Linked DNA regions of Homo sapiens. The protein of the gene in region 1 purifies or fractionates together with the protein of each later gene. This does not show direct contact. Each region holds a gene or a part of one and is shown on either strand. Other genes may lie near its edges.

Region 1 (3,657 bases):
TTACAGACGCCCACTACCACGCCTGGCTAATTTTTGTAATTTTAGTAGAGACGAGATTTTACCACGTTGGCCAGGCTGGTCTCGAACTTCTGACCTCAGGTGATCTGCTCACCTCAGCCTCCCAAAGTGCTAGGATTACAGGTGTGAGCCACCGTACCCGGCCCCATCTTGCAATTTCTTTCTAGGTTTGTGTGAGTGTATGTTTATGGTTCTTATCCAAGTGACCAGGTCTAAGTAAGAGACATCAAAAGATCCTTGTGCCCCCTAAAATGAAATAATAATTACAATAGTAATTTATGTCATGCATTTTATTGATATTTTTAAAATAAATCGCCTCCAAGACAGATATGGGTGATCTTGATAGTGATTTTTCCCTCTACTGGTTTCTTAAGGGATGATGAGCATAAAATAGTTGGTATAAGTTTGCTCTTTCACACTTGGATTTTATTTTTGTTGAGCTCCTAATCATTTAGGGTTACTTCAGAGGTGACTTGATTGTACCCTCTGTCACACGTAATGATTATAACTTTATCACTGTCAACCTCACTATAATATTTCATCGTATCACTGTCATTCACATGATCACCGTATGCATTGTTCCTGGAATCTAACTTACGAAAGGACCTGGAAGAGGACTTGACTTTGCTTGAAACATGTAGGTTTTGAGTGTTTTTCTCCTTTGCCTCAGAAATATCATTGACCAAAGGCCTATAAGTTTTGGCAACAAGATGTTTTTTCTTGTAGGGTTGACAAGTTTCAGCTAATTCAGAGTTGGATAATAAGGCTGCCCTGCCTAGACTCACTGACCTTTTTGGATTAAAATGTTTGGGAGGCTTAGCCAATTCCTGTGGACCGAATGGCTTGGATGGTGAGATTTCATTTTGTGGATGAGATGAATAAAGTGGCTTGAATAGCTGAGGTGGCCTGACTGGCTTATCTGAACTGGCTAGCTTACACGCATAGTCTAGCTTACATAATTTTTCTAGGCTGCCTTTCTTATGTGCCTTTTCCAGGTGAGATGACTTGCTTAATTTTTTTGAGCATGATGACTTGGATGACCTTTTTGGATATGATGGCCTAGTTAACTTTCCTGCACTGTTTGGTATGGATGGCTTTTGTAGACTTGAGGGTCTGATTAATTTTTCTGTGCTGGATTGTGCGGATGCCCTTTCTGGACTCGATGAATCAGATGACTTGTCTGCAGTAGATAGCATGGGTTGTGTTTCTGGACTGCATTGAGAGGCTGTCTTGGCTTCACTGAATGATGTTTTAGATGACTTGGCTGCTATGCCTTTTTTCTTGACCCTGAAAGTATAGAAAATTTGGAGTATAATGATTTAAAACAAAAGAGACCTATTACTATTATCGGAGAACGTATGGTACTGCTTAGACCTGTGGTCTTTTGGGGCTTTAATATGAAAACTGAACACAGTAAGAATCGGAGTGTGACGGCTGTGTGTGGTGGTTCACACCTGTAATCCCACACTTTGGGAGGACGAGGTGGGCAGATCACTTGAGGCCAGGAGTTCGAGACCAGGCTGGCCAACATGGTGAAACTCCATCTCTACTAAAAATACAAAAATTAGCCTGGTGTGGTGGCGCACACCTGTAGTCCCCAGCTACTTGGGAGGCTGAGGCAGGAGAATCGTCTGAACCTGGGAGGCAGAGGTTGCAGTGAGCCGAGATCATGCCATTGCACTCCAGCCTGGGTGACAAAGTGAGACTCTGTCTCAAAAACAAACAAACAAAAACACAAAAACAGAATTGGAGTGGTGAAAGCCACAACTAAGGTTATAAATATGGACTCTTGTTTAATGCTTTTTCTTAAGAGCATTTTACTATTTAACCACATTAGATAACCATATAATCCACATATAGAATTACACAAAGTTATTTCAAATCTGCTGTAAAAAGAGAGAAACACACACACACACACACACAAAGAGAAAGAGAGAGAGAGAATGAACCTCACTTATTTCAGAATTAAACTTTTTATAAAAAAGTCACAGATTGATAATGTATCACAAGAAAAAAACTGTAGGAAAAGTCATTGTTTTTGTATCATATTTACAACATCAAGTTATCGGTGCATATTTAAATTCATAACATTCCTCTGAAACTAAAGGAATACAGTACTGGTACCACGTTTTAGTCACCAGTCTTTGGAATGGGATATTTTTAGGGAACTAGTATATAAAAGGCAGGCACTGAGATCATGAGAGCAACAACAGTGAATAATTTTTCATGTGATTAAGTCTTAAAATGGTAGATTATCCAAAATGTTTTATTGTCTTTGAAAAACAGAGACCCAATTCCCTCTCTCTTTCTCTTCATTTTCGCACTCTTATTTGGATATTCATGCCCTCTTTTCCTGCACTGAATTTATAATGCAATTAATGTCCTGGAGTTCAGCTGAACCTTGAACAAGAGACACTTTGGCTGAAGTTAATAATGTACTAGAGAATATTTAAGAGCTGATATAATTTAAGGGAAAATATTCACCTACAAAAGGTTGGTAGCTCTTCAGAAGTCTAAAGTTAATATTGAGTAACCTGAACAACAATGAAACCTCCGCTATATGTACACACACACACACCTCGCACTCTTAATTTAAAGGAGTAAAACTTACATTCCTGCTTTGGACGCATCATCGCTCAGACAATTATAATGGAGATAACAAAAACAGATAAAGACAAAAACCATGATGATAATACCAACTAAAATGAGTAGATTTCTTCTAAGGTAGTTCAATTTTGTCTGCATTGATTCAACAGGTTTATCTCCTGCAAAGAGATTGTATAATCAGAGAAGGTGTTAAGTAACCAAGTTTTTTTCCACATTGATAGTGGTTTGATAGTGTAGATCAAAATAACATTTCTTCATGAATTATTTTTTAAACCTGATTAATTGTACCACTGTTATGTTTTTACCTCATGGATCCAGCCAGTCCAGAAGCTAAATCTGGGAGGCATCGCTGACTAATCCATACCATTACCTGGGTTATCCCTGAATCTTGGCTTGCTTATCACATTACCCAGGTTTTTGAATCTGTGTGTGTGTGTCTTGCATGTATAAGTGTACTTGAGTGTTAACGTGTGTGTGAATGTGTGTGTGTAATTGAAAAAGGATGTGATAAAAACAAACCTCTGTTAAAAACCTACTATATGCTGGAGATCTGGCAAGATGGCCAAATAGGAACAGCTCTGGTCTGCAGCTCCCAGCGAGACCAATGCAGAAGGTGGGTGATATCTGCATTTCCAACTGAGGTACCCAGTTCATCTCACTGGAACTACTTAGGAGTACCCAGTTCATCTCATTGGGACTGCAATGGGTGCAGCCCAAGGAGGGCGAGCAGAAGCAGAGTGGGGCATTGCCTCACCTGGGAAGTGCAAGGAGCCAGGGGCCTCCTTCTCCCAGCCAAGGGAAGCAGTGAGGGACTGTACTATCCAGCCCAGATACTACGCTTTTCCCATGGTTTTGGCAATCCACAGACCAGGAGATTCTCTCGTGTGCCTACAACACCAGGGCCCTGGGTTTCAAGCACAAAACTGGGTGGCTATTTGGGCAGACACAGAGCTAGCTGTAGCAGTTTTTTTTCCCCCCAGTGGCACCTGGAAGCCCAGTGAGACAGAACCATTCACTCTCCTGGAAAGGGGG
Region 2 (3,058 bases), on another chromosome or scaffold:
CAATTCACTCGCCTCGGCCTCCCAAAATGCTGGGATTACAGGCCTGAGCCACTGCGCCCAGCCAGGATTTGAATTATTTTAACTCATCCATGGGCTGCCCTAGAATGTCACAAATGAGGGTTGTTTAATGCCTTTCTTATAGCTGCTACTGGAACACTATTATGACCTAATTTATGAGCCATCCTTACTCATCTACAAGTGCTGAAGCAATGTTACATACTTTTTTGCTAAACTCAGATTTTTTAGCCTAATTTCTTGTCCTCCTATCCACCTGCATCCACACATGGCCTGCATGGGGCTGCCTTCCCTGCAGTGTTCTGCAGCCATGCTTCAGGGTATAGCTGTTGGTGGACAGCCTCAGGTCTTGGGGGCACTATAGCCACTAAACGAGGTGTGAAAGGCTCAAGAGGATGACCAGCAATTAATTATCCCCAGAAAGTGAAGGAAAAGAGACCTTTAGGGATGTTGCTGGTCAAGTCTTGATTTGACCGGAGTCAAATCAATCTTCAAGCAATCTTGGAATCCTCAACTGCAGTAAGCATTTCAAAATGCAAACAAACTGCTTAACAACTGACAAGACACCAGCCCATACGCTGCTCTTCCAACAGTGGGTTCTAGCTTTGAACAAAAGTGCTAAACATTTCCTTGAATATATTCTTCCTCTTTTTGTCCTCATCACTCAATACTGGTGCTCTTGTCACAGGTAGAACAGCTTGTTTCTTTTCCATCTATTCAAGTGTGTTTCTAATTCTAAAATGCTGATCTTCTCTGGAGTCTATGGTAGGCAATTATGGTCACTGGAATAGTTTGTCTTGTTTTAAAATATTATTGGTGCATGTACAACAGCATCCAACATATCTGTCTTGTTCCTAGATATATAGCTCTGATTTTAGGCCTTTTGTGCATACCATTACAATATGGTGGGGTAAGACATTCTACAGTAGCCTGTGCTGAACTGATCTCTTAAATAAACTTGCTTCTGGTTAACTATGTTGATGAAATCTGAGAGTCCATTCAGTAGCCCTCATCTCACCCTTCAAAGAGAGTCAGCTAGCAGATTAGAAACAAATGTCTGATTAGGATGAAGCAGGTTTGAGGGGTGCTGGTATAATAGCAAGAAAGATTTGCTGACCACTCTCTTTCCAAACTCCATAGTTTCTGAGTGGAAACGAGGATGAGTGAGGTCCTGGCTCAAGTATTTTACTCCCACTACCACCTGGGAGCCCTCCAGGAAAAGAGCTGAGGCTGCTCCAGATGGAAGTCAAGAGCAGCTGGTATTTACACCTGGAAAATCAGATTTTTTTTTCTTTTGCAATAACTCGGTAGTAAGACCAGACCAACAATTTTAGAGAAAAGCCTACATCTAACATACATGCTACCAAACGAGTGTCTAACAGGAATAAACCAAGCAGAAATCTCAAAACAGGTCTACATCAAAAGTTACAAGCAAGCATATCAGGTGCAATACTGAGGATGAGTATATTAGGAAGTAAAAACACTTACCGTAAATGAATATTCGAAGTGCACACTGCAATGGGTTGATTGGAGAGATATCTAAATGTAAACATTTGACATCAAAGTGGCAAGCTTTGGGCTCCATTGGAAGGCTGCAATTTCCATGGAAAAGCCCTCAGAGAAGCATGTTTCAATTGCCGAAACAGGCCTAATCCTTATGCAAGATGTAAGGGTTTTAAAAAGTTAGAAACTCTGCTCTCACCTTTCAATATTAAGAGCATAAACAAATGAATCACCAGGCAGATTTTTATATATGACACTAAGAGATTTAGAACTTTAAGAGCTGTGGTGACCACATTATGGTGGAGGAACAAAAAAGGAAACCTTGGCAGTTAGAAAGCTGCTCAGTGATGAATTCAAGAAGGAACCAGCTTTAAATTATCTCTTCATGCCAACATCCATCTATACACTGAAAGTTTTAGTATTGTACATTAAGACGATCAGGCCCAGCAGGGTGGTTCACGCCTGTAATCCCAGAACTTTGGGAGACTGACATGGTGGATCACTTAAGCCCAGGAGTTTGAGACCAGCCTGGGCAACATGGCAAAACTGTCTCTACTAAAAATACAAAAAAACTAGCTGGGTGTGGTGATGCATACCTGTAGTCCTACCTACTTGAGAGGCTGAAGCAGGAGAATCGCTTAAGGTCAAGGCTGCAGTGAGCTGTGATTGTGCCACTGCACTCCAGCCTGGGTGACACAGCGAGACCCTGTCTCTAAAACAAAAAAGACAATAAAGTAGTTTAAGCTAGTAAAACAGAAGGTGCCACAACAACCTGCAAAGCCAGTGTGAAGGAACAGCTTGAAAAAACTTCGAATTTCTACTGACTACAGACAAATCCAAGTGCTGATATTTTTATATCAATTACTGGCCAAAATGGTGTGTTTATTTTTTAAAGCTTGTATCATGGAATGTATAATCTAATCTGGAAAAATGTTTGAAAGGGATGGCTAGAAAAAAATTTGGGCTCACAGGCACTCACCAAATAAGAACGTCAACAATCACTAAACTGCATTTTTATTTAAACAACATTAATTACAGTCTTTCCTCGTGCGTGTCCTCTTTCCACCTTCAGGAAGGCTTCTGGAACTTTAGAAAAAGGAAAGGTTTGTTCAATAACTGGCCGGATCTGTAAAACATAAGAGGTTGACCGGTGGATAAAAAAGCCTACATCTTTCAAGGCAGATGACATTGCTAATTAGTTTCTTGACGGTGTCCCTCAAGCCACAGTCTCTCTCAAGTGTCTCTCCAGTGGACCCAGGTCAGGCTCTCACAAGGGCCATGATGCTGCCTCCACTCCTGCCTCACTGCTGCTTCTCTCTTTATGGCCCCTCCCACCCCACTGCCCAGTCTTACTTCTCCTCCATGCTGGTCTTTCACTCTCCTACTTAGAACCGTTCAACAGCTCCCACTCCGGCATTCGAAGACCAATAGCATCCTGAGCTCAGCCCTCATCCAGATTCCATGCTTTGCAAAAACGCTCTACCTGCCATTTTCTCCACGTGGTATGTTTATGCCTCTGCTGGTACGAGTCAGTAAGCCC
Region 3 (3,657 bases), on another chromosome or scaffold:
CTAAGTATGTCTCCTTTGGTCCCAGTAGTCTTGTTACTTTTTCCTGTCATTATAAAACCTTGTGATACCTTCTTTTCACTTTCCTATCTAGACAACTGAGGCTGAGGAAGTCTTTGTGCCAGTTTTAAATATAAAACGTTCTGAACTACCTCTGCGAGGTGACATTGTCTTCTTTCTTCAGAAGGTTCATATTCCAGAGAGTATCTTGATTTTTCGGGATGAGATTGACCTCCATGCATTATACCAGGCTGGCCAACTCACCCTCATCCTTGTCGACCATCATATCTTATCCAAGTAAGCACAAGGAAATTAAATTGCTACCTATCATGTACCATGCTGGGCTCTGATGAGTGAGATATAAAGAGAGGAAGAAAGAGTTTTTGCTGGCTGGGCATGGTGGCTCATGCCTGTAATCCCAGCACTTTGGGAGGCCAAGGCGGGCGGATCACCTGAGATCAGGATTTTGAGACCAGCCTGGACAACATGGCAAAACCCCGTCTCTACTAAAAATATAAAAATTAGCTGGGCGTGGTGGCAAGTGCCTGTAATCCCAGCTACTTGGGAGGCTGAGGCGGGAGAATCACTTGAACCTGGAAGGTGGTGGTTGCAGTGAGCCGAGATCGTGCCACTGCACTCCAGCCTGAGCGACAGAGCCAGACTCCGTCTCAAAAAAGAAAGAGTTTTTGCTTTCAGGGATCTCATAGGCTAATCATAATTGATAGGTCATATTAGATATAGAAAAACAACACAAAATATTGTCAGTTCTGCAGTTATATGTATGTCTGTGGCATATAGACATACCCTATAATAAAAAGAAATAGAACGTGTTGAGTTCAAACTAAAGGGTAACTCAAAAATCATTTAAATCTGCCTTTGGTATCATTATTTAAGATTTTGTGTGCCGGGTGTGATGGCTCACGCCTGTAATCTCAGCACTTTGGGAGGCCAAGGCAGCCAGATCCATTAAGCTCCAGGAGTTCAAGACCCGCCTGAGCAACATGGCAAAACCATGTCTTTACAAAAAATTTTTAAAAATTAGGCACGGTGGTGCATGCCTATGGTCCCAGCTACTCGGGAGGTTGAGGTGGGAGGATCACTTGAGCCCAGGAGGTCGAATCTGCAGTGAGCCAAGATCACACCACTCCACTCCAAGCCTGGGAGACAGAGGGAGACCCTGTCTCAAAAAAAAAAAAAAAAAAGATTCTGAGACAGATTTATTGTAATAGAAACCTTTGAAAAATGTTTGCAATTCTCTTTTTATTTTTTTACTTATTATTTATTTTTGTACTTACTTATTAAATTTTTTTTAGAGAAGAGGGTCTTGCTATATTGCCCAGGCGGATCTCAAATTCCTAGGCTCATGCTATCTTCCTGCCTCTGCCTCCCTAAGTGCTGGTTTATAGGTGTGAGCCACCACACCTGGCCTGCAACTCTATTTTTAATTTTAATTTTAATTAATTATTTTTTTTTGAGATGGAGTCTTGCTCTGTCACCCAGGCTTCAGTGCAGTGGTGTGATCTCGGCTCACTGCAACAACCTCTGCCTCCTGGGTTCAAGCGATTCTCCCTGCCTCAGTCTCCTGAGTAGCTGGGATTACAGGTGCGCGCCACCATGCCCAGCTAATTTTTATATTTTTTACTGGAGACAGGGTTTTGCGCTGTTGGCCAGGCTGGCCTGGAACTCCTGACCTCAGATGATCTGCCCACTTTGGCCTCCCAAAGTGGTGGGATTACAGGCGTGAGCCACCACACCTGGCCTATTTTTAATTTTTAAAAAGTGGCCTGGTGTGGTGGCTCACGCCTGTAATCCCAGCACTTAGGGAGACCTGTCTGACCACTATAGCGAGACCCTGTTCTCTAAAAAAAAATAATAAATACAAAAATCTATAAACATAGTGTGACCTTGTCTCTACTAAAAATAAAAAAATTTGCCAGGTGTGGTAGTGCATGCCTGTAGTCCCAGCTACTTAGGAGGCTGCTGAGGTGGTAGGATCACTTGAGCCTAGGAATTGAGGCTTCAGTAAGCCATGATCACATCACTGTACTCCAGCCTGAGTGACAGGGCAAGAACTTGTCTCCAAAAAAATTTTTTTAAGTTATCAAAAGGGCCAGGTGTGGTGGCTCACACCTGTAAACCCAGCACTTTGGGAGGGTGAAACAGGAGGGTTGCTTGAGCCCAGGAGTTCAAGACCAGCTTGGGCAAGATGGTGAGATCCCATCTCTACAAAAAAATTTAAAAGCACACAAAAAGTTAGCAAAAGTTTTTCTACATAAACTCTTACGATTTTAGAATAATGTATTATGTTAGAATATATAAATATCTCAGGCCAGGCGCGGTGGCTCATGCCTGTAATCCCAGCACTTTGGGAGGCTGAGGGGGGCGGATCATGAGGTCAGGAGATGGAGACCATCCTGGCTAACATGGTGAAAACCCGTCTCTACTAAAAAATACAAAAAATTAGCCGGGCATGGTGGCGGACGCCGATAGTCCCAGCTACTCGGGAGTCTGAGGTAGGAGAATGGCATGAACCCGGGAGGCGGAGCTTTCAGTGAGCTGAGATCATGCCACTTGCACTCCAGCCTGGGCGACAGAGCAAGACTCCATCTTAAAAAAAAAAAAAAATAGCTGGGCGTGGTGGCTCGCGCCTGTAAGTCCCAGCTACTTGGGAGGCTGAGGCAGGAGAATCGCTTGAACCTAGGAGGTGGAGGTTGCAGTGAGCCAAGATCGCGCCACTGCGCTCCAGTCTGAGCGACAGAGTGATGCTCTGTCTCAAAAAAAAAAAAAAAAAAATTAGCCAGGCCGGGCGTGGTGGCTCACGCCTGTAATCCCAGCACTTTGGGAGGCTGAGGCGGGCAGAATCACCTGAGGTCAGGAGTTTGAGACCAGCCTGACCAACATGGAGAAACCCCATCTCTACTAAAAATACAAAATTAGCCAGGCGTGGTGGCACATGCCTGTAATCCCAGCTACTCAGGAGGCTGAGGCAGGAGAATTGCTTGAACATGGGAGCCAGAGGTTGCGGTGAGCCGAGATCATGCCATCGCACTCCAGCCTGTGCAACAAGAGCGAAACTCCGTCTCAAAAAAAAATTTTTTTTAATCTATAAATATCTCAATAATGTCTGTTTAACAAATGTACACATTTATAATAATTCCATCCCTAATTTACTACTGGAAAAAACTACCAAAAAAGCAACACGATTATGTGACTTTCCTAAGTCTGTTTGGCTCCTGCTAATATTTTTTTCTTGAGCACATTGTGGTTATAGCAGGATACTGACAGAAGGCAGCCTGAGAGAGCATTATCCATCTATGGATTCATTCAGTAATAAACTTTCCTTTTTTTTTCTTTTTTTTTTTTGAGACAGAGTTTTCTCTTGTTGCCTAGGTTGGAGTGCAATAGTGCAATCTAGGCTCACTGCAACCTCCGCCTCCCGGGATAATTTTGTGTGTGTGTGTGTGTGTGTGTTTTTAGTAGAGATGGGGCTTCACCATGTTGGTCAGGCTGGTCTTCAACTCCTGACCTCAGGTGATCCGCCCACCTCGGACTCCCAAAGTGCTGGGATTACAGGTATGAGCCACCGTGCCACCACCTTTTTTTTTTTTAAGAGATGGTGTCTCTCTCGCTCTGTCTCCTAGGCTAGAGTACAGCGGCATC

The links.
Region 2: the proteins of CXorf66 (region 1) and CRYBG1 purify together in Homo sapiens (affinity purification with mass spectrometry; one large-scale study listed by BioGRID and IntAct). This does not show direct contact.
Region 3: the proteins of CXorf66 (region 1) and PRUNE1 purify together in Homo sapiens (affinity purification with mass spectrometry; one large-scale study listed by BioGRID and IntAct). This does not show direct contact.

Annotation. Positions count from the first base shown.
Region 1 is NC_000023.11:139,955,435-139,959,091, forward strand, and holds the end of CXorf66 (uncharacterized protein CXorf66 precursor), read right to left. Parts: intron 2,784-3,657; coding exon 2,630-2,783; intron 1,306-2,629; coding exon 462-1,305; 3' UTR 294-461; downstream 1-293.
Region 2 is NC_000006.12:106,569,460-106,572,517, forward strand, and holds the end of CRYBG1 (beta/gamma crystallin domain-containing protein 1), read left to right. Parts: 3' UTR 1-2,536; downstream 2,537-3,058. Other genes in the region: RTN4IP1 (NAD(P)H oxidoreductase RTN4IP1, mitochondrial isoform 1 precursor), read right to left, coding at 2,537-2,644. UniProt on the Homo sapiens protein: May function as suppressor of malignant melanoma. It may exert its effects through interactions with the cytoskeleton.
Region 3 is NC_000001.11:151,018,376-151,022,032, forward strand, and holds part of PRUNE1 (exopolyphosphatase PRUNE1), read left to right. Parts: intron 1-91; coding exon 92-294; intron 295-3,657. UniProt on the Homo sapiens protein: Phosphodiesterase (PDE) that has higher activity toward cAMP than cGMP, as substrate. Plays a role in cell proliferation, migration and differentiation, and acts as a negative regulator of NME1. Plays a role in the regulation of neurogenesis.